3 linked regions of the Homo sapiens genome follow. The protein of the gene in region 2 purifies or fractionates together with the protein of the main gene of each other region. This does not show direct contact. Each region holds a gene or a part of one and is shown on either strand. Other genes may lie near its edges.

What was found.
Region 1: the proteins of SLC27A6 (region 2) and TTC4 purify together in Homo sapiens (affinity purification with mass spectrometry; 3 studies listed by BioGRID and IntAct, with this or other methods). This does not show direct contact.
Region 3: the proteins of SLC27A6 (region 2) and PCDHGB5 purify together in Homo sapiens (affinity purification with mass spectrometry; 2 studies listed by BioGRID and IntAct, with this or other methods). This does not show direct contact.

What each region holds. Positions count from the first base shown.
Region 1 is NC_000001.11:54,718,861-54,725,860, forward strand, and holds part of TTC4 (tetratricopeptide repeat protein 4), read left to right. Parts: intron 1-2,302; coding exon 2,303-2,380; intron 2,381-3,814; coding exon 3,815-3,939; intron 3,940-7,000.
Region 2 is NC_000005.10:128,960,489-128,968,551, forward strand, and holds the start of SLC27A6 (long-chain fatty acid transport protein 6), read left to right. Parts: upstream 1-4,999; 5' UTR 5,000-5,649; coding exon 5,650-6,130; intron 6,131-8,063. UniProt on the Homo sapiens protein: Mediates the import of long-chain fatty acids (LCFA) into the cell by facilitating their transport at the plasma membrane.
Region 3 is NC_000005.10:141,393,933-141,401,021, forward strand, and holds the start of PCDHGB5 (protocadherin gamma-B5 isoform 1 precursor), read left to right. Parts: upstream 1-4,014; 5' UTR 4,015-4,195; coding exon 4,196-6,592; coding exon of another isoform or gene 6,593-6,652; intron 6,653-7,089. Other genes in the region: PCDHGA8 (protocadherin gamma-A8 isoform 1 precursor), read left to right, coding at 1-1,305. UniProt on the Homo sapiens protein: Potential calcium-dependent cell-adhesion protein. May be involved in the establishment and maintenance of specific neuronal connections in the brain.

The sequences.
Region 1 (7,000 bases), on a different chromosome or scaffold from region 2:
AAGTGATCCACCTGCCTTGGTCTCCCAATGTGCTGTGTACTCAGTGGACCTTTTCAGTCTGGAAACTCATGTTTCTAGGACATTTTCCTGAATGCTTTGATATTTTTCTTTTTCTTTTTTACTCTTTTTTCTCTTTTTGGAAATCCTGGCTGCTGGTACTTTGGGAACCAAGTAGGAGAAGAGGACCAAGGGCTCAATCTTTAATATTTCCTTTACTGAATCACCTTTGTGCCTGGGGGTTCCAGTCCAGAGACCTACTGTTTTATTGTCTGCTAGGGTAAACCTCCAGTCCTCCACCTGGAGGAACAGGGGAGGAGTAGGTCACTGGTGCAGCAGAGGGGTAAGGAATATGGGACTCTGACTGCTTCTTAAGTAGATTTTCAACCCACCTTCACCCCCACTTCCAGAGGTACCTGGTGCCATCAGTTCCTGAGTCCTGAGTACTTTGTAGTTTCTGCAGTGCAGCTTGGTAGCTTTTGTGCTTTCCCTCTACTGGTTTAGAATTCAGTTTCCTTAAGCCTGATACATCAGTTACTTGTTCCTTTGTTTTCCAGCTTTCACAATGTGTTCTGTGTTCTTCTCATTTTCTTTGTCTTTATGGGAGAGAGAGTGGGGATTGAGTTAAATGTATGTGTTCAATCTGCCTCCTTTAACTAAAAGTCCTTGGATCCCTTTCATGTGCATTTTTTTCCATGGTTGAGATCCTGCTGTTCTTCCAGTTTGATATTCAGTTTTTTCACTTAATTTTATAACAAACAATTTCACCGTCATTAAAAATCATTTCTGAATGTTATTTCAATAGCTAAAGTTGCATCATATGGACATGCCACTATTTATACTGTTTGCTTTATTAGTCTGCTATTGTTGAGTATATAGACTGTTTTTTGGTTTTTATAAATAATGCAAAAATAAATAAAGTCATAATATTTTTCTGATAATTCTGATTATTCATTAGGCTAAAGCACGATTTGGCAAACTAGGACTCAGAGTCCACCCCTGGCCCCTTGGCTTGCCATGAACTAAAAATGTTCCATACTTTTTTTTTTTTTTTTTTTAAAGTGACAGGGTCTTACTCTGTTCAGGCTGGAGTGTACTAGCTGTGATCATAGCATAGTGCAATCTTAGACTCCTGGGCTCAAGCAATTCTCCCACTTCTGCCTCCCGAGTAGGTAGAACTATAGGCATGTACCACCATGCCCAGCTAATTTTTAAAAAATTTTTTGTAGAGAGAGAGTCTTGCTATATTGCCCAGGCTGGTCTTGAACTCCTGGTCTTAAGCAATCCTCTCACCTCGGTCTCCCATAGTGCTGGGATTGCAGGAGTGAGCCACCTCCCCAGAGGTTTCTTACATTTTTCAAGAATTGTAATAAAATGAAGAAGAATGTGCAGTAGACCACATGTGGCCTGCAACACCTAAAATATTTATCTGGCCCTTTACAAAATATTTTGCTGACCCCTGGGCTAGAGATTTAGGTAAATACTAAACCATTAAGTAATAATTATAGTATACTCCAGAAAGTTAAAGTATACCTCATGGCTTGCTAGTTTGGATAACTGGTATGTGTGTGACTGCATACTTTTTTTTTTTTTTTAATGCACTTACAAATATATACATGTGTGTCTAGATATTTAGTTTTTTTTTTTTTTTAAATAGGCTTCCTCTATACTCATAGAACCACCACTTAAAACAATATAGAACAGACATCCTACCGTGTTTCTTACATGAGGATCTATCTCATTCTTTTTAATGGCTGCATAGTATTCAATAGTATGGATTTACCATAATTCATGTAATCATTACCAAATTGAGGATATTTGAGTTATCTCCAGCTTTTCACAATTAAAGTAATGCTGTAGTTAACATGCTTTTACATTTATCCCTGCACATTTGTTCAAGTATTTTTGATAATTTTCCAGAAGAAAATTGTTGTGTCAAAGTATATGTACAAAATACATGCTAATTTGCTTTCTAATTTACCCTGAGAGTACCCCTTTTCCATATCTTTTCTAATACTAGATATTATTTGTCTAACTTTTAGCAATTTCTTAATTTTAATTTCCTAATCATTAGTGATGTTGAACGTCTTTTCATGTGCTTACTAGCCATTTACAGTTCTGTAGATTGCCTGTTATAGACATTTCTAAGGCTCTTGACAAGTACAACCATATTTTTTCAAAAAAACAGTTGCTCTCATTTGTATTTCCCCAGGATTGTACAAGAGTGTCTTTGTCACTACATATAAAATTTTGGAAACATTTTGATCTCAAAACTTCTCTCTTTTACTAAACGGTGTTTTGTTAGGCAATTTTCGTTCTGCTCTCAATGATGTGACAGCTGCCAGAAAGCTAAAACCCTGCCACCTCAAAGCAATAATAAGAGGTAAGTCTTGTGGAACTACAGTATGACATTTAAAGCTTTGATATGAAGGTGCTAGGATACTAATAAAGTCATCTTATTTTTGCAGTCTGGGTATTAAGTTCCTGTTCCTTATCAACAGCAACATGCCACTTTTAAAAGAATTCCTCAGAGAGTGACTTAACCCTTTATGTAATAATAATTTGTAGAGAACTAGAAGCCCCTCATTTTAAATTAATAAAAAATAAAATTAATTAAAACAAAGCAGTTGCAAAGCCATATTCTGATTTTTTTTCCAAATTAGCTGATTGAAAGGCAAGGTCTTCAAATGCCATGTTAATGTTAATTAAAAGATAAGTTATGGGACCTTTGCTGATGACTTTGGTGCTGAGATGTTCTCAGATTATGTTTTCTCTTGTAGTCTGACCTTTCTATGTAATAACAGTGCTTTTATTACTTTTATACTTCACCTTTTCTTTGAGAAGCTCATAGGTGCTTTGCAAACTTTAATTTATTCATCACATATTAATCTTCCCTGCATCCCCATGGACCAGCTTAAAATGCTTTTTCAAAATTATGCCTCTTTAAATGTTCATGGTTAAGGGCAGTAGGAAGATCCATGTCCCTCAGCTGTAGGAAAAGAAGGTACTGAACAAAGATTGGCTGATAAATTGAATCTAGGTAATCCTGTGGAATTTGCCTCAGGCTAGAAGTGTGTAATCCTTGATTCAGTTGTTGGTTTAATTTACAATGTGACCTTGGCAAGACACCCACTTTGAATATCAGTTTGCTCATCTCTAGAAGATGGGGTTAGAATCTGTTGGCATCTAAGCCCTTACAATGCTTATATTTTGAAATTCTGTGGAAAACCTAAAGAGGCTAACTGGAGAAAAATGTACATGATAACATGAAATTTTTTTTTTTTTTTTTGATGGGGGAGAGGCAGCTTAAACTGGTAGCCATAAAGAACAAAATTAGGAGACACCTAATGTTTTTGGCCTTGCCACTGCCTTGATGAATAGCTGAAGCAAAGTCTGCTTTTTCCCTCCATTGAAAAAATCATCTGGGATGGACTTTATTCTTCCTGTTTGCAGATGAGGAACCTAAAGCTTGGATATGCTTGGTCCTTTGTCTAAGGTCTAGCTGGTAAATGACACAGCCAGATTTCTAGCCTTGATCTATCTGGTTTGCCACTAAGTTATAGCTTTTCCTACTTTAAGAGCCCTTAATACCAGGGAGACTTACAGGAGTTTTGAACTAAATGGACCTTAGGGATTTTTCTGATTTAGGACACAAAAAGTATTCTCCCTTGTCTGGGGACTGCAGTATAAGGGGCATTATCCTCCATTTTGCCTTCAGGGTACTGGCTGGTAGTTGGTGGGGGATGGGAGATCTTGCCCAAAGCAGGTTCTTTCCATGCATGTTTTTCTTGAATCCTAAGGGTTCTGGGTTCTGCAGGTGCCTTATGCCATCTGGAACTGAAACACTTTGCCGAGGCCGTGAACTGGTGTGATGAGGGACTGCAAATAGATGCCAAAGAGAAGAAGCTTCTGGAAATGAGGGCTAAAGCAGACAAGCTGAAGGTTGGTGACTGTCAGCAACCAATTAGCATTTGCTAATTAGCAGTAATTAGCATTCCCAAGATTGTGTCTCTCAAGTCATTGTAAACTTTTTAAAAACAAAACCCAAAACTAGTCCCTACTCCTGGAACTCTGTGGAGCACACAGACAAGTAAACAGTTATAGTGTGATATAGAGGTAAGCAAGGATAGATGGTGTGTATAGTGGTAGTACAGTCATGTGCCACATAACAGTGTTTCATTCAATGATGGAACTCCGTATATATTACAGTGGTCCCATAAGATTATGATGCCATATTTTAACTGTGCTTTTTCTGTGTTTAGATGTGTTTAGCTACACAGATACTTACCATTGTGTTACAGTTGCCTACAGGATTCAGTGTAGTTATGTGCTTTACAGGTTTGTAGCTTGGGTGCAATAGGCTGTACCATATAATCTAGGTATGTAGCAGGCTATACCATCTCAGTTTGTGTAAGTACATTCCATGATGCTTGTACAACAATGATTGTGCATTTTTCAGAATGTATCCCCATCAATCTGAATGGAGACACGTCTTGTCCAGGGCAAAATTAGATACCATTACTATATACAGTCACATAACAATGTCACGTGTTCAGGGCCAGCTAAAGACTCCCAGTGTATATTATATACTCCCATTCCGTAGTATAAGCCATGAAGAGAGACCTAAACCAGGAATTAAGAGACCTTAAGACTAGTTCTGGCTTTCTATTAACAGGCATGTAAGACAGTATTACACAGTGGCTAAGAGCTTAGACTCTGGAGCCACTGCCTGAATTTGAAGACTCCCTTCATGACAGTTATGTGACTTGGACAACTTGCTGATCTCTTTGTGCTTTAGCTACCTCACTAGTAGAAGGAGAATTAAAATATTTCCTACCTTATAGGGCTATTATATAGTTTAGATGGTTTAACGTAAGGAATGTTTTTAAATAACACCTGGAGCACACACACAGTAGTGCTATTTAAATGTTGGATATTATTTTGGGTAGTGATGGTATTCTGTTATTATTACTGTTTTTAATCATCATTTTAGCTGTTATGTGCCAGAAATGTCATATATCATCAGCAATGACCAGAGGTCATTCTGGTCATATGAAATGGTAGAAAAGGTAGATCTCTATGGACCCACATGGCTCAATAACAGAATTCTGAGCCTAGGTAATTGGGTATGGCCAGAATTTCTGAAAGTGGTATATACAGGAATGAATGTCTAGAGGGCTACTGGGGACAGTCACAATTAAAGGGAGATTTCAAGGCCCAGAAGCCTGATATTAGGTCTAGGTGACATTACTTGCTGAATAGCTGAAGTATTCCCCTGTGTCTGAGTACAAGCTGATTCTGGGTTCCTATGTGCTTGGCATATAGCCAACAGACTTGTGGCTATGTTAATATCAGACAGAGTAGACTTCAAGGCAGCAAGTGTTACCAGAGATGAAGTGAAGCTTTTTTTCTTTTTTTTTTTTCATGAGACAGAGTCTTGCTCTGTTGCCCAGGCTGGAGTGCAGTGGCATGATCATGGCTTCCTGCAGCCTTGACCTCCTGGGATCAACTGATCCTCCTGCCTCAATCTCCTGAGTAGCTGGAACTACAGGCGTGCACCACCATGCCAGGCTAATTTTTTTTTTTAATTTGTAAATTTGTAGAGTTGGGGTTTCACTATGTTGCCCAGGCTGGTCTCAAACTCCTGGGCTTTAATCCTCCTGCCTTAGCCTTCCAAAGTGCTAGAATTACAGGCATGAGCCACTGTGCCCAGCCACTGAAGCATTTTTTTAAATGATAAAAGGACCAGCTTATAAGAATATTTAACAATTCTAAATGTGTAGGCACCTACTAACAGCTTCAAAATGCATGATGCAAAACTTGACAACTCAAAGAAGGAAGAGACAAATCCACAAATAGGTGGAAATATCAACTATCTCAGTAATTAATAAAACCAGTATTTAAAAAATAGAGAGGGGTAGTGTCAATCACAGTGGTGGACTAAAGACCTTTACAATTTTTCTCCTCCATAAAATCAATGAGGAAACTGGCAAAAATGATCAGAATTCACTTTTCTAGGACTCTGGAAATGAACCAGAGGTTTGCAGCAATCTGGAGCATGTTTATTCAAGAAAAATGTTGGAACCTCAGTAAGAACAGCAAGCTTTGTGACATTTTAACTTGCTCTATTCTCATCTCCCTCCTCTCCAGTTCCACAGTAGCCTTGAAAGCCAGTAGCCCACAGTCATGGTGAAAATGAGCAGCCTGCAGCCACCAGAGGAGGCAGAACAGGGTTGGAGCTCTTTCAAAGCCTTTTCCCAGAGAACTGTGATGATTTGACCATCTGGTAGATCCCTGGAAGACCCCGCTCACAGGGCTATTTTTATATGACCTGACTTGGAGCTTACCCAGTATAAAAAGCTTTTTTACATAGGGCCAGAAAATAGGGGGAATGAAAAGGTGGGAGAGAATTTGTCAAAAAACAATTAGAGGCAATTGTTAAAGATTGTAGAAGCTGAAGCAGTGGATAACACTGGAGCAAACAATAGGTGCATCATAAAGCTTAAAAGGAAAAACTGGGGAATGAAATTCTGTGGGGGCTCCGAAAAGCTCCAGTATTCCTGAAGATCTAGATGGTCACACATGTGCCCAGGGCTATACATGTGCTCAGGAAAGACCTGAGAAGACCCTAAGCTCTCAGAGTCTCTGCAAGAAGGAAGTGAAGGCTAAGGTAGAATTGTAAACTGCTTGGGTGAATGCTAAAAATGTGCTTCAACATGTACACAAAGCCTCTTGACAAAGATTGGAAGACTTACTGTCTGGTCATTAGCTAGAGGAAGCCTAGATGTGGGACTTACTAGACAAAGACTTTAAACCAGCTAATTTAAATATCTTCTCAGAATGAAAGGAAATAGTGTCTAAAGAACTAAAAAAAGTATGAGAATGATGTCTTTCCAAATAGAGAATATCAACAAAGAGAAGTTACTAAAAAGAACTTAACAGAAGTTCTGTAGTTGAAAAGTACAATAACTGAAATGAAAAATTCACTAGAGGGGCTCAACAG
Region 2 (8,063 bases):
GTTGGTTTAAAGTCTACTTTATCCGAGACTAGGATTGCAACCCCTCCTTTTTTTTGTTTTCCATTTGGTTGGTAGATCTTCCTCCATCCCTTTATTTTGAGCCTATGTGTGTCTCTGCATGTGGGATGGGTATCCTGAATACAGCACACTGACGGGTCTTGACTCTTTATCCAATTTGCTAATCTGTGTCTTTTAATTGGAGAATTTAGCCCATTTACATTTGATGTTAATATTGTTATGTGTGAATTTGTTCTTGTCATTATGATTTTACCTGGTTATTTTGATCGTTAGTTGTTGCAGTTTCTTTCTAGCATTGATAGTCTTTACAATTTGGTATGTTTTTGCAGTGGCTGGTATCAGTTGTTCCTTTCCATGTTTAGTGCTTCCTTCAGGAGCTCTTATAAGGCAGTCCTGGTGGTGACAAAATCTCTCAGCGTTTGCTTGTTTGTAAAGGATTTTCTTTCTCCTTCACTTATGAAGCTTAGTTTGGCTGGATATGAAATTCTGGGTTGAAAATTCTTTTCTTTAAGAATGTTGAATATTGGCCCTCATCTCTTCTGGCTTGTAGAGTTTCTGGCGAGAGATCCACTGTTAGTCTGATGGGCTTCCCTTTGCGGGTAACCCGACCTTTCTCTCTGGCTGCCCAAAACATTTTTTCCTTCATTTCAACCTTGGTGAGTCTGACAATTAAGTGTCTTGGAGCTGCTCTTCTCGAGGAGTATCTTTGTAGCATTCTCTGTATTTCCCAAATTTGAATGTTGGTATGCCTTGCTAGGTTGGGGAAGTTCTCCTGCATAATATCCTGCAGAGCGTTTTCCAACTTGGTTCCTTTTTCCCCCTTCACTTTCATGTACACCAATCAAATGTAGATTTGGTCTTTTCACATAGTCCCATGTTTCTTGGAGGCTTTGTTCGTTTCTTTTTACTCTTTTTCCTCTAAACTTCTCTTGTCACTTCATTTCATTAACTTGATCTTCAATCACTGATACCCTTTCTTCCACTTGATAGAATCAGCTACTGTAGCTTGAGCATACGTCACGTAGTTCTTGTGCCATGGTTTTCAGCTCCATCAGGTCATTTTAGGTCTTCTCTATGCTGTTTATTCTAGTTAGCCTTTTGTCTAATCTTTTTTCACTGTTTTTAGCTTCTTTGTGATGGGTTTGAACATCTTCCTTTAGCTCAGACAAGTTTTTTATTACCAATCATCTGAAGCCTTCTTCTCTCAACTCGTCAAAGTCATTCCCCGTCCAGCTTTGTTCCATTGCTGGTGAGTAGCTGCGTTCCTTTGGAGGAGAAGAGGCGCTCTGATTTTTAGAATTTTCAGCTTTTCTGCTCTGGTTCCCCCCATCTTTGTGGTTTTATCTACCTTCGGTCTTTGATGATGGTGATGTACAGATGGGGTTTTGGTGTGGATGTCCTTTCCGTTTGTTAGTATTCCTTCTAACAGTCAGGACCCTCAGCTGCAGGTCTGTTGGAGTTTGCTGGAGGTCCACTCCAGACCCTGTTTGCCTGAGTATCACCAGCAGAGGCTGCTGAACAGAAAATATTGCAGAATGGCCATTGTTGCTGCCTGATCCTTCCCTGGAAACTTCATCTCAGAGGTGCACCCGGCTGGATGAGGTGTCAGTCGGCCCCTACTGGGAGTTGCCTCCCAGTTAGGCTACTCGGGGTCAGGGACCCATTTGAGGAGGCAGTCTGTCCATTCTCAGATCTCAAACTCTGTGCTGGTAGAACCACTACTCTCTTCAAAGCTGTCAGAAGGGGACATTTAAGTCTGCAGAAGTGTCTGCTGCCTTTTGTTCAGCTATGCCCTGCCCCCAGGGGTGGAGTCTACAGAGGCAGGCAGGCCTGGTTGAACTGAGGTGGGCTCCATCTAGTTTGAGCTTCCTGGCCACTTTGTTTACCTATTCAAGCCTCAGCAATGGAGGATGCCCCTCCCCCAGCCTCGCTGCTGCCTTGCAGTTGGATCTCAGACTGCTGTGTTATCAGTAAGCGAGGCTCCGTGCACGCCTCTTATTTTTAATGTTCGGTTTGCTTCATGAGTCCTTGTGTCGAATACTATTCTGGGCAATGATTATTCATTAATACAAATAAACATTAGATTATAGGAAGAGTAAGCTTCCCATGATAACCGAAGTTATTATCAGATCCTAAAAGCAATAATTAAAAACCCTGTTCCCAGGTAGAATTGTAAAGTGGATGACTCCTGCATCCAGCATTCTCCCATTCATTTTTAGAGCCATCCAACTCCCTCAGTCACTTCACTGCCATTCCCTTTCCCAAGCCCCGGCTGCCGTCTAGATAGTCAGAGCTTCTTGGCCCATTGCAAGCACTCATCATGATGTTTAGCCACCAACCCAGCATTGTTTGGCATCTTTCTAAATTTCTTGGTTTTCACTCAAACCTCCCATAATCCAAATGATGACTGCTATAGAATTCCATCAGAAGACTTATGAAGACAAGTGATTTGACAGCAAAGAGTCAGAATTCTTAGGTTACAGTGGCAAAATCCTGTAGGCTCCATGTCTGTCATATATTGCTATTTGTTCAGTCTTACTTTGATCTACTCACTAAACAATTCATCCTCTATAGAACTGAGGGTGCAAAGGTGGTTGGTAGTGGGTTAAAGAGGAAAGTCAAATCAGAAATGAAGAAGAGGTTGAAGAGACCACATGTAGATTAAAAATAAACTTTTTTGGGGCATTGATTTTCATTTAGTCACAATATTTTTATTTTCAAATAACATTAAAGAAAAACAAACAGTCTTTATGTTTTTTAAAGGAGAAGCAGAGAAATATTACACTATTCCTAGTCAAAAGTAATGTTAGCAGGAATGTCTAGACTATTTCTATGTGTTTATTTCTCTTTATTTTAGTTAAATGATAGATTTACTCACTTGCAACTAACTCTTGCTATATTTCTCCCATTTCAAAATTCTTAAACTATTGTAGCTAAAAATTGTATCTATTTTACTTAGCTGCCTTTGGTAGCATTTGAAAGTGAATGCAAAATTTCTGGACAAAATAGAAACAGGTACATGGGCTAATATAGGAATATACACAATACTGTTAACTGTCCCAAGATTTTTCATTGATTATGTCTTCCATGGTGAGATTTCAGGCATAAAATTGGTTTGGGTTAGTACAAAGTCTGGCCCAACATATGCTTACTTGTAGTTCTTCCTAATAAGTCAAACAAGCTCACATTTATGGTGCTGAATATATTCTAGATTCATTGTATCTGTAGTTGCTAAAAATTTAGTTCCATGCCTTAGGATGGTATTAGAATGTCCATGATAAGAAAAATAAGTGCAGCAAAATAAAAGAAATGCCACGCCTATCTTTCTGTATTATTTTTTCCACTGGAGAAGGACAGATTTTACTCATTAAAACTACAAAAGTCTGAGACCAACTGCTCCATATTCTTTTGTGTTCGTTAAATGTTGTTATTTGGAGGTGACTTAATTAGACTAAAGCTAGAAGAGAAAACAATAGAATGTCAAAGATGCTTTTCAAGTTGTAAACTAATGTTTTAAGTTATAAACTACTTGATACTATTTTCTTAATTAAAAAGATATTTCTGAATCGAAAAGATCAAAGCTTCTGAGTAAATTTAGAAAGCATTTTTTTGTCATTTACAGAAAAGGGCTTTAAGAGCCTATGTTCCTTTGGCTTTAAGAGCTCTTCACTGTGACTTCAAAGTAATCATTTTCAGATTAATAAACTGGAGCTCGTCTTTGGAATTATCAGTTTTTCTTTTATTACAGAATCTGAGGTTAGCCAGAATCCATCTGCAGAACATGAGGCAGAAGGGAGAAACACCTAACAAGGTGAGGCCTTCCTTAACTATTTTAACACAAGCAATTAACCATTTATACTCACTTAAAAGCAGACAGCTGGGATGATGGTGTCTGCTAAAAAAAAAAAGTGTAATGAAATGTTCTTTAGTTTTTTGATCTTTAGTAAAATTTCATCTTCGTATAAAATTTTATTAACCATTCCACTAACTTGTTACTTCTCCACTCCACCTCCCCACTCCCTTTAGAATCCTTAGTTTGAAGACATAATTCTTTAAATGATCTGTCTCAGGGAGGGGGGATCTTGTTACTTTTAAGGACTGCAAATAGCATTATAAACTTTGTTTTTATTTTTAAATACGAATATCGACTGAAGCTCTCAAATCAATCAATATTGTTGCCAAATTTTGTAAAACGCACTGTCTTAGCTCTCTAACGATAGAGTTCTAATATAAATGTAAAAACCAACCTATCAACATGTTTTCAAAAATACTTTTTGTAAAGAACAGTACAATTTTGTGGTGTCCAAATATTCCTTTCTTTCTTACAAAATATTATTGGATCTGTCCAGTTCATAAATATTCCTGCCCTCTCTTCCTCCCTCCCTGCCTCTCTCTCCCTGCAGTTTTTTTGATGTTTGTTCTTTTCTTTCCATTTTCTAGTTATTAATTGGTTCAATGGATGACCTTTGTGCGACACTGTTATACCTTATCAGCCTCGCCAGGGCCCCCGCGCCGCCCAATCCCAGCAACTCTGGTTCTCCTGTGACCCCAAGCCTTCCAGATCCCTGGGTTTCCCCCCACGGGACTGTCACATTCTTCCCCGCCGGAGACGCCAGTCGCGGGGCCTCCTCCCTGGGGTGTGAGCAGGTCGGCGCGCCACACTTCTCTAGGTGGCCGGACGCGCGCCCAGGGAGGAGCTGGCGGCGGGGCCCAGGCTGTTCCGGCTGCGGCACGCCAGGGGATGTGGTTAGCCCTGAGCCTGGAGGCCGAAGGTGGGCAGGCAACACTCCCACCATGTTTCGGAGGAGAATACACTAGGCTAGCCTAACGACACTCGGAGTGCGAGCTGCGGCTGGGGTAGGGGCACCCCTTTCCAGCGGGCGCGTGGGTCACCAAGGAGCAGTTCTCCGGGACCCGTTGCGTCAGAGGGACTGGGCGGGGCTGGGCGGGGCAGGACGGGGGCGGCGCTCAGGAACCCTGGAACCCGCTGGCCCTGAGGCCACGGACCGAGACGTGGTGCTGAGCCCCTGCGCGGTTTCTGGTGCGTAGAGACTGTAAATCGCTGCGCTTCTCAGTCATCATCATCCCAGCTTTTCCCGGCTCGAATTCAGCCTCCAACTCAAGCTCGCGGGAAAGACTACCTGAGAGGAGAAAAGCTTCTGTCCCTGGACCTTCTTCTGAGGGTGGTGAGGTTTGTTTAGGGTCGCAGAAGCAGGGAGGACTGACTCAGCCCTCACAGAGAAGAGGTCTGGAAAGTCCTGGGGAACTCGCAGGGCACGGGCCGCTGTCGCGGTTGGGAGGCGAGGGCGCAGCGCTGGGGTTGTAGATTCCAAGACCCCTGAGGGTGGCTGTGTTGGTTTCTCGCAGGAGTCGGAGGCTCCCTGCTTTCCAGCCGCCCAGTGACCCAAGCTTAATCTTCAGCACCACTTGGGGCGACCTTTTCGGTGCAAACCTACGATTCTGTTTCTCAGGATTCCTCCCCATCCCGCTTCGCCCCGGAAAAGCTGACAAGAACTTCAGGTGTAAGCCCTGAGTAGTGAGGATCTGCGGTCTCCGTGGAGAGCTGTGCCTGGAAGAGAAGGACGCTGGTGGGGGCTGAGATCAGAGCTGTCTTCTGGCCCAGTTGCCCCCATGCTTCTGTCATGGCTAACAGTTCTAGGGGCTGGAATGGTCGTCCTGCACTTCTTGCAGAAACTCCTGTTCCCTTACTTTTGGGATGACTTCTGGTTCGTGTTGAAGGTGGTGCTCATTATAATTCGGCTGAAGAAGTATGAAAAGAGAGGGGAGCTGGTGACTGTGCTGGATAAATTCTTGAGTCATGCCAAAAGACAACCTCGGAAACCTTTCATCATCTATGAGGGAGACATCTACACCTATCAGGATGTAGACAAAAGGAGCAGCAGAGTGGCCCATGTCTTCCTGAACCATTCCTCTCTGAAAAAGGGGGACACGGTGGCTCTGCTGATGAGCAATGAGCCGGACTTCGTTCACGTGTGGTTCGGCCTCGCCAAGCTGGGCTGCGTGGTGGCCTTTCTCAACACCAACATTCGCTCCAACTCCCTCCTGAATTGCATCCGCGCCTGTGGGCCCAGAGCCCTAGTGGTGGGCGCAGGTAGAGTATGGGGTGTGGTCTGCCTATACAGAATGGCAGCCCACCTGCTTTCATACCCTTTTTTTTTTCTTTAGGATAATTCGTAACTAATATTTTGGGTGAGTGAAGTGTGCATGTTAAGAGTACAAAATAGTTTTATGATTCTATGCTGGTTTAACAACTGTCTCCTCCCTTCAGGCACGTAGTTTCAGAAAACTTTTATGAAATCTCTGCTTCCTACCATTTTGAGACAGGGACAGTTTTACTGCTATTGGTTCCTTCAGTGAGTGCAAGAACACACAGAGAACTTGGTCACTTCTAAATTTTATCAGCTCTGACAAAATGGTGAATAGGAAAGTTATCTGACTTCATTGTGACACGTCTACCTACCTCTAATTGTACTTTATCAGGGATGACTACATTTGCAGAAGAGATATGTTTAAAGGAAGGTACCTGAATTCCTTTCTTCATGTCTGCTCTTATTTTATACTGTCTGCAAGCTAGGACTTGCCTAGCAAGGTTGCGCTCCCACCTGTGAGCCAGAACGTGGGCTCTTGGCAGACTCTAGGAGCCTTTCTGTTTCTTCTTCTTATCCTTCCATGCATCCTTTTCTTTTTTTGACTAAGTTCTACCCTTCCTCCTCCCCCTGCCTTGGAGTTAGGACATCTTAGGCTACACGTATTTTCACTGAACTGTAAAGAAAAGCCTGGGGTTTAGTGGCTAATTAGTAAAGAAGCTAGGAAGATGGGTTGCTTAATGAAATAGAAGTGAAATATGAAAAATGATACTTATTTGGTGTAATCTAAATGGTTTATGCAGAGTCTTCTTCAATGGGGAAGGAAGGTGCGGAAAGAGGAAGATCCATTGCAAGGACCATAATGAAAATATTTAAGTATTTTAGATTAATAGATACATACCAATACCTTGTATAAAGTTTTTAAACTCACAGAACAATATGGAAAAATATATTTATACCCTGGTGATCTCTAAGGTATAGAACTTTTCAAATAACCTTTATGATATAATATTTGTATATCAAACCAAAGTGAGTTAGGCAGTATATGGAAAATGGGCTAGCCCTTCAAGGCTATCACTGTTCCTAGTTCTTTTCAGTTCAACTTGTGGTCTGATAAAGTGGCAAATGTATACTTTTTCTTATTTATTATTATTTTTTATTATTATACTTTAAGTTCTAGAGTACATGTGCACAAAGTGCAGGTTTGTTATGTATGTATACATGTGCCATGTTAGTGTGCTGCACCCATTAACTCATCATTTACATTAGGTATTCCTCCTAATGCTATCCCTCCCCACTCCCCCCACCCCACGACAGGCCCTGGTGTGTGATGTTCCCCACCCTGTGTCCAAGTATTCTCATTTTTCAGTTCCCACCTATGAGTGAGAACATGTGGTGTTTGGTTTTCTGTCCTTGTGATAGTTTGCTCAGAATGATGGTTTCCAGCTTCATCCATGTCCCTACAAAGGACATGAACTCATCCTTTTTTATGGCTGCATGGTATTCCATGGTGCATATGTGCCTCATTTTCTTAATCAAGTCTATCATTGATGGACATTTGGGTTGGCTCCAAGTCTTTGCTATTGAGAAAAGTGCCGCAATAAACATACATGTGTGTGTGTCTTTATAGAGGCATGATTTAGAATCCTTTGGGTATATACCCGGTAATGGGATGGCTGGGTCAAATGGTATTTCTAGTTCTAGATCCTTGAGGAATCACCACACCGTCTTCCACAATGGTTGAACTAATTTACACTCCCACCAACAGTGTCAAAGTGTTCCTATTTCTCCACATCCTCTCCCGCACCTATTGTTTCCTGACTTTTTAATGATCGCCATTCTAACTGGTGTGAGATGGTATCTCATTGTGGTTTTGATTTGCATTTCTCTGATGGCCAGTGATGATGAGCATTTTTTCATGTGTCTGTTGGCTACATA
Region 3 (7,089 bases), about 12 Mb from region 2:
CAAGACTCTGGAAAGAATGGTCAAGTTGTCTGTTACACACGTGATAATTTACCTTTTAAATTAGAAAAGTCAATAGGTAATTATTATAGATTAGTGACAAGGAAATATTTGGACCGAGAAAATGTCTCTATCTACAATATCACAGTGATGGCCTCAGATCTAGGAACACCACCTCTGTCCACTGAAACTCAAATCGCTCTGCACGTGGCAGACATTAACGACAACCCTCCTACTTTCCCTCATGCCTCCTACTCAGCGTATATCCTAGAGAACAACCTGAGAGGAGCCTCCATCTTTTCCTTGACTGCACACGACCCCGACAGCCAGGAGAATGCCCAGGTCACTTACTCTGTGACCGAGGACACGCTGCAGGGGGCGCCCCTGTCCTCGTATATCTCCATCAACTCTGACACCGGTGTCCTGTATGCGCTGCAATCTTTCGACTATGAGCAGATCCGAGACCTGCAGCTACTGGTAACAGCCAGCGACAGCGGGGACCCGCCCCTCAGCAGCAACATGTCACTGAGCCTGTTCGTGCTGGACCAGAATGACAACGCGCCCGAGATCCTGTACCCCGCCCTCCCCACAGACGGTTCCACTGGCGTGGAGCTGGCGCCCCGCTCCGCAGAGCGTGGCTACCTGGTGACCAAGGTGGTGGCGGTGGACAGAGACTCGGGCCAGAACGCCTGGCTGTCCTACCGCCTGCTCAAGGCCAGCGAGCCGGGACTCTTCTCGGTGGGTCTGCACACGGGCGAGGTGCGCACGGCGCGAGCCCTGCTGGACAGAGATGCGCTCAAGCAGAGCCTCGTGGTGGCCGTCCAGGACCATGGCCAGCCCCCTCTCTCCGCCACTGTCACGCTCACCGTAGCCGTGGCTGACAGCATCCCCGAAGTCCTGACCGAGTTGGGCAGTCTGAAGCCTTCGGTCGACCCGAACGATTCGAGCCTTACACTCTATCTCGTGGTGGCAGTGGCTGCCATCTCCTGTGTCTTCCTCGCCTTTGTCGCTGTGCTTCTGGGGCTCAGGCTGAGGCGCTGGCACAAGTCACGCCTGCTCCAGGATTCCGGTGGCAGATTGGTAGGCGTGCCTGCCTCACATTTTGTGGGTGTTGAGGAGGTACAGGCTTTCCTGCAGACCTATTCCCAGGAAGTCTCCCTCACCGCCGACTCGCGGAAGAGTCACCTGATCTTTCCCCAGCCCAACTACGCAGACATGCTCATCAGTCAGGAGGGCTGTGAGAAAAATGATTCTTTGTTAACATCCGTAGATTTTCATGAATATAAGAATGAAGCTGATCATGGTCAGGTGAGTTTAGTTCTTTGCTTGCTTTTAATTTCCAGATGAATTTTATTTGGCATAAATTATGTTTTGAAAAACATTGTGAAGATAGTTGAAAATAATTTTTAAGGTGTATCACAGAGTTTTGGGTTTATTTTGGTGGTGTTACTATAAAATTGAACTCTAATAGTCATAGGTTATTGTTTCATTTGCTTTTAAACGACTTGGAAAAGATTGTTCAACCATTTTAAGCCTTCCAGTATTTTATTCCTATTATCACTCATTCACTTAAGAAGTAGCTACCCGTCCATACTGGTAATTTTGCTATTGTTTGTGTGTGTGTGTGTGTGTGTGTGTGTGTGTGTGTGTGTGTGTGTGTGTATCCCAAACTAGAACTTCAGAAAATTATCAAGAAGTCTAAAGCCTTGTTATTAGCTTAGCAAAAGTAAAATATATCTCAGAATTTTTAGGGTTATGTTTAGCATTTGAACCTGTAACTAGGCTCTTGTAGATTTCTTCACTTTAAACCTCTTTTCTGAGCCCTGTTTCTGTACCAGTGCCCTTCAAAACTTTAATACTTCTTACCATCCTTCAAAACATGAACAAACTTTAAAGATGGATCTTGGTGGGAGATGAGACTGGTTACTAAATATTAAGTATGTGAGTCAGTGGTCACCTGGGCTCCATGCCCATGGAGACATGAAATCTAAAGCCTAGAATGTCCATTGCTCCCCCAAACAAAAAACAAAAGCAAAAACATTAGATCTGAATTAAAATGTAATTTTAAACTGTTGAAAGTGACTTTTGTAAAATATGTAAGAACATATTTCAATACAATTCCAATTAGCTGTTTCGGTTGTGCATTGATGTGAAGTGGTGAGAATGTTGATATTAAGAACCAATGTTTCAGGTACACAAGTTCTAAATAAGCTGATCAATTCAATTAAAGTTATTCAGTCTTGGCTGGACACAGTGCCTCATGTCTGAAATCCCAGCACTTTGGGAGGCTGGGGCAGGAGGACCGCTTGAGCCCCGGGGGTTTGAAACTGCAGTGAGCTATGATCATGCCACTGCACTCCAGCCTAGGTGGCAGAACTAGACCCTGTCTCTAAAAAAACTATTATTAGGCCGGGTGCGGTGGCTCACGCCTGTAATCCCAGCACTTTGGGAGACTGAGGTGGGTGGATCACCTGAGGTCAGGAGTTCAAGATCAGCCTGGCAAACATGGTGAAACCCCGTCTCTACTAAAAACTACAAAAATTAGCCAGGCATGGTGGCATGCGCCTGTGGTCCCAGCTACTCGGGAGGCTGAGGCAGAAGAATCACTTGAACCCGGGAGGTGGAGGTTGCAGTGAGCCTCGATCCTGTCACTGCACTCCAGCCTGGGCAACAGGGTGAGACTCCGTCTCAAAAAAAAAAAAAACTAATATTAATAGTAAAAACTCGGTATAGGCTATCCATTATTGTATTCCTGCATACCTTCTTGTAGCATTTGAATAAAGCTAATACCTGAATTGATTGTTGTAAGGTAGAAGTAGATGACCCAATAAATGTTTGTTATTAATGAAAAGGACATTTCCTAAGGATTGTGTAGTGTTCTACTGTATGGTGCATATTCAGTGGAGTGGGAGTTAACTTCATAGTTTGTGTACCATTTGGATGCACATTTGAGAGGACAACATATTATTGGCACTTTGCAATTTTAAAAACTCGGATGAAAGTTGCCCTGGTAGGAAAGAAAATCCTTACTCTCCCTAAAAATGTTGGCTAGTTGTTTTTATTAATCTGACAAATGGACTAAAGAAGGTTGACCAATGTCCACAAATTTATGTAAATGAACTTATGAGCTTCATTTATCCAATTCCAAAGTCATTTCAGATAGGATAATAATGCAATCCACTAGAATATCCCTTTGTACCTTGTATTGCAGAATAGATAAGCATTTCCCCAATAACTCTTAAGAATGAATTTATGTACTGTAAAAGATATGACATAAGAGAAGTATTTTGAGATATGAAGAAGAGCAACGTAGTAGGGTATATCATTTCTTAGCTACATCATATGGGCAGTATACTTGAATGAATATTTCCTGAAGTAGAAGAGTAAAGAAAAATTATTTTTATAAAGAATGTTAATATAGTCAGGAAGAGGAGATGTTTGGGGATTGGTATAAAATTGCCACAACTTTACAAAATAGTTTTAAATAGTATAGATTTCCCTAATATGTGTAATATAAAACACTAGAAATATTGGGGAGTTGGAAATCATAGAAATGAACAGAAGAATGATAAAATTGTTTCCATAGCTAATAAAAAATGAATTTTTGAAATCAGTATAGTATGAAGGCTCTGAGAGCAAGAACTGTATCATATTAATTATTATATTGCCAGTGACAAGGGCAATACTTAGTTCTAGCTAAGAGTTCAAGGTATGTTTGCAGAATGGTGAAAGAATGGACCAATGTATGCAGGTTTGTATAAAAACCCAACGTGATATTTCTAACAATTTGGAAAACAGAGAAAGATACCTTAAAGAAGTTGTTATAATTTTTTATTAAGTATATGGACGTAAAAACTTGGCTTGTTAAGTTAGGCACACAAAAACAATTACTGCACTGGTTAACTTGAAGCCGCAGAGGCTGTAGTTTCCTAGTGCTGACTCTGGGCGCCGCTGTTGGCCAAAGTGCAGAGCTTGGCGCTCCAGATCTCCTCGCGCAGCCGCAGCGCGCTTTCCAGGGCAGCCCCAGCTCAGACTCCCCAGCGCCGGCCTTTACACCGCTTCCTCCTCGGAAAAAGAATCGTTTCCTAAACTGGAACTGGAACTAAAGCCCGTTCGGAGATCCAAAAATCTACAATACAGAGGTTATTTGTAACCTGGCGTCTCCAGGCTGGTGAGCAAGCTGAGGAGAGCAAGAGGGATGGGGAGCGGCGCCGGGGAGCTGGGCCGGGCTGAGAGGCTGCCAGTGCTCTTTCTCTTCCTGCTGTCTTTGTTCTGCCCGGCGCTCTGTGAGCAGATCCGCTACAGGATTCCCGAGGAAATGCCCAAGGGCTCCGTAGTGGGGAACCTCGCCACGGACCTGGGGTTCAGCGTCCAGGAGTTACCGACTCGAAAACTGCGCGTCAGTTCGGAGAAGCCTTACTTCACCGTGAGCGCAGAGAGCGGGGAGTTGCTTGTGAGCAGCAGGCTAGACAGGGAGGAGATATGCGGGAAGAAGCCAGCTTGTGCTCTGGAATTTGAGGCTGTTGCTGAAAATCCACTGAACTTTTATCACGTGAATGTGGAGATCGAGGACATTAATGACCACACGCCAAAATTCACGCAAAATTCCTTTGAGCTGCAAATAAGTGAGTCTGCACAGCCTGGCACAAGATTTATACTAGAAGTAGCAGAAGATGCAGATATTGGCTTAAACTCTCTGCAGAAGTATAAACTCTCTCTTAACCCAAGTTTCTCATTAATAATTAAGGAGAAACAGGATGGTAGTAAATACCCGGAACTGGCACTGGAGAAAACCTTAGACCGGGAACAACAGAGTTACCATCGTTTAGTCCTGACTGCCTTGGACGGTGGACATCCACCCCTAAGCGGCACCACTGAGCTCCGGATCCAGGTAACCGACGCCAATGATAATCCCCCGGTATTCAACCGAGACGTGTACAGAGTCAGCCTTCGGGAAAACGTGCCACCAGGCACCACTGTGTTGCAAGTGTCAGCCACTGACCAAGACGAGGGCATCAACTCAGAAATTACTTATTCCTTCTACAGAACCGGGCAAATCTTTAGTCTGAATTCAAAGAGCGGAGAAATTACCACTCAAAAGAAACTGGATTTTGAAGAGACCAAGGAATATTCAATGGTTGTAGAAGGGAGGGATGGTGGTGGACTGGTTGCACAATGTACAGTTGAAATTAATATTCAAGATGAAAATGACAATAGCCCAGAAGTTACATTCCATTCTCTACTTGAAATGATTCTGGAAAACGCGGTGCCTGGAACACTAATTGCTTTGATCAAAATACATGACCAAGATTCTGGGGAAAATGGGGAGGTTAATTGTCAATTACAAGGCGAAGTCCCTTTTAAGATTATCTCTTCATCCAAAAATTCGTATAAGTTGGTAACAGATGGAACCCTAGACCGAGAGCAAACCCCGGAGTACAATGTCACCATCACAGCCACAGACAGGGGCAAGCCGCCCCTCTCCTCCAGCATAAGCGTCATCCTACATATCAGAGACGTCAACGATAACGCTCCGGTTTTCCACCAGGCGTCCTACTTAGTCAGTGTACCCGAAAACAACCCTCCTGGGGCCTCCATCGCGCAAGTCTGCGCCTCGGACCTGGACTTGGGGTTGAACGGCCAAGTCTCCTACTCTATCATGGCCAGCGACCTAGAGCCTCTGGCACTGGCCTCTTACGTGTCCATGAGCGCGCAAAGTGGGGTGGTGTTCGCGCAGCGCGCCTTTGACTACGAGCAGCTGCGCACCTTCGAACTCACACTACAGGCCCGCGACCAGGGCTCGCCTGCGCTCAGCGCAAACGTGAGCCTGCGCGTGTTGGTGGGCGACCGAAACGACAACGCACCGCGGGTGCTGTACCCCGCGCTGGGTCCCGACGGCTCTGCGCTCTTCGATATGGTGCCGCGCGCTGCAGAGCCCGGCTACCTGGTGACCAAGGTAGTGGCCGTGGACGCAGACTCAGGACACAACGCCTGGCTGTCCTACCACGTGCTGCAGGCTAGCGAGCCCGGGCTCTTCAGCCTGGGGCTGCGCACAGGAGAGGTGCGCACAGCGCGTGCCTTGGGCGACAGGGACGCGGCCCGCCAGCGCCTGCTGGTTGCTGTGCGTGATGGTGGACAGCCGCCACTCTCCGCCACCGCCACGCTGCACTTGGTCTTTGCTGACAGCTTGCAGGAGGTGCTGCCGGATATCACTGACCGCCCTGTACCCTCTGACCCCCAGGCTGAGCTGCAGTTTTACCTAGTGGTGGCCTTGGCCTTGATCTCAGTGCTCTTCCTCCTGGCCGTGATTCTGGCCGTTGCCTTGCGCCTGCGACGCTCCTCCAGCCCTGCCGCCTGGAGCTGCTTCCAACCTGGTCTCTGTGTCAAGTCTGGACCTGTGGTTCCCCCCAACTACAGTCAGGGGACTTTGCCTTATTCCTACAACCTATGTGTTGCACATACAGGAAAGACGGAGTTTAATTTCCTAAAATGTAGTGAGCAATTGAGTTCAGGACAAGACATACTTTGTGGTGATTCATCTGGGGCCTTATTTCCACTTTGTAATTCCAGCGAGTCGACTTCCCATCCTGAGTTGGTGAGTTTCATTTATGTCTATTCTTTTTCATTACCCACCCAATTTTCTGTATTTACATGAAACTATCGTACATTTTCAAGTCCAATGAGTTGTCTTAGGGAAGTCAGAGCTGCTCAGAAAGCTGTCCTACCATTCTTTAAGAGGAGCAGTAAATTGTGAGTTTTTATGTCGCATAAAAGAAGTAGCCTTATAGATTTACAAAGTAGTGAGAGTTTGCTCTTAGCTTCCTCTCTAGCAAAAACATTTGGTGCGTTTTTTTGTCCTCTTTCTCAAAGCTAATGAATTTTACCTATTCGTTGTCTCATTCTTTAACATGTTTATATTTTATTGTATGTAGATAAACCATTAAATTTAATGTATGTAATCATTTAATTCATCTTTTAAAGCAAAGAAACTGCTAGTAGATGTCTTTCTTCACTGATTTCACTGGTAGTTTTCATCTCTTTCTTATGTTCCTCATATATGCTTTCTTATTCCTACCTAATGGATTTATGATT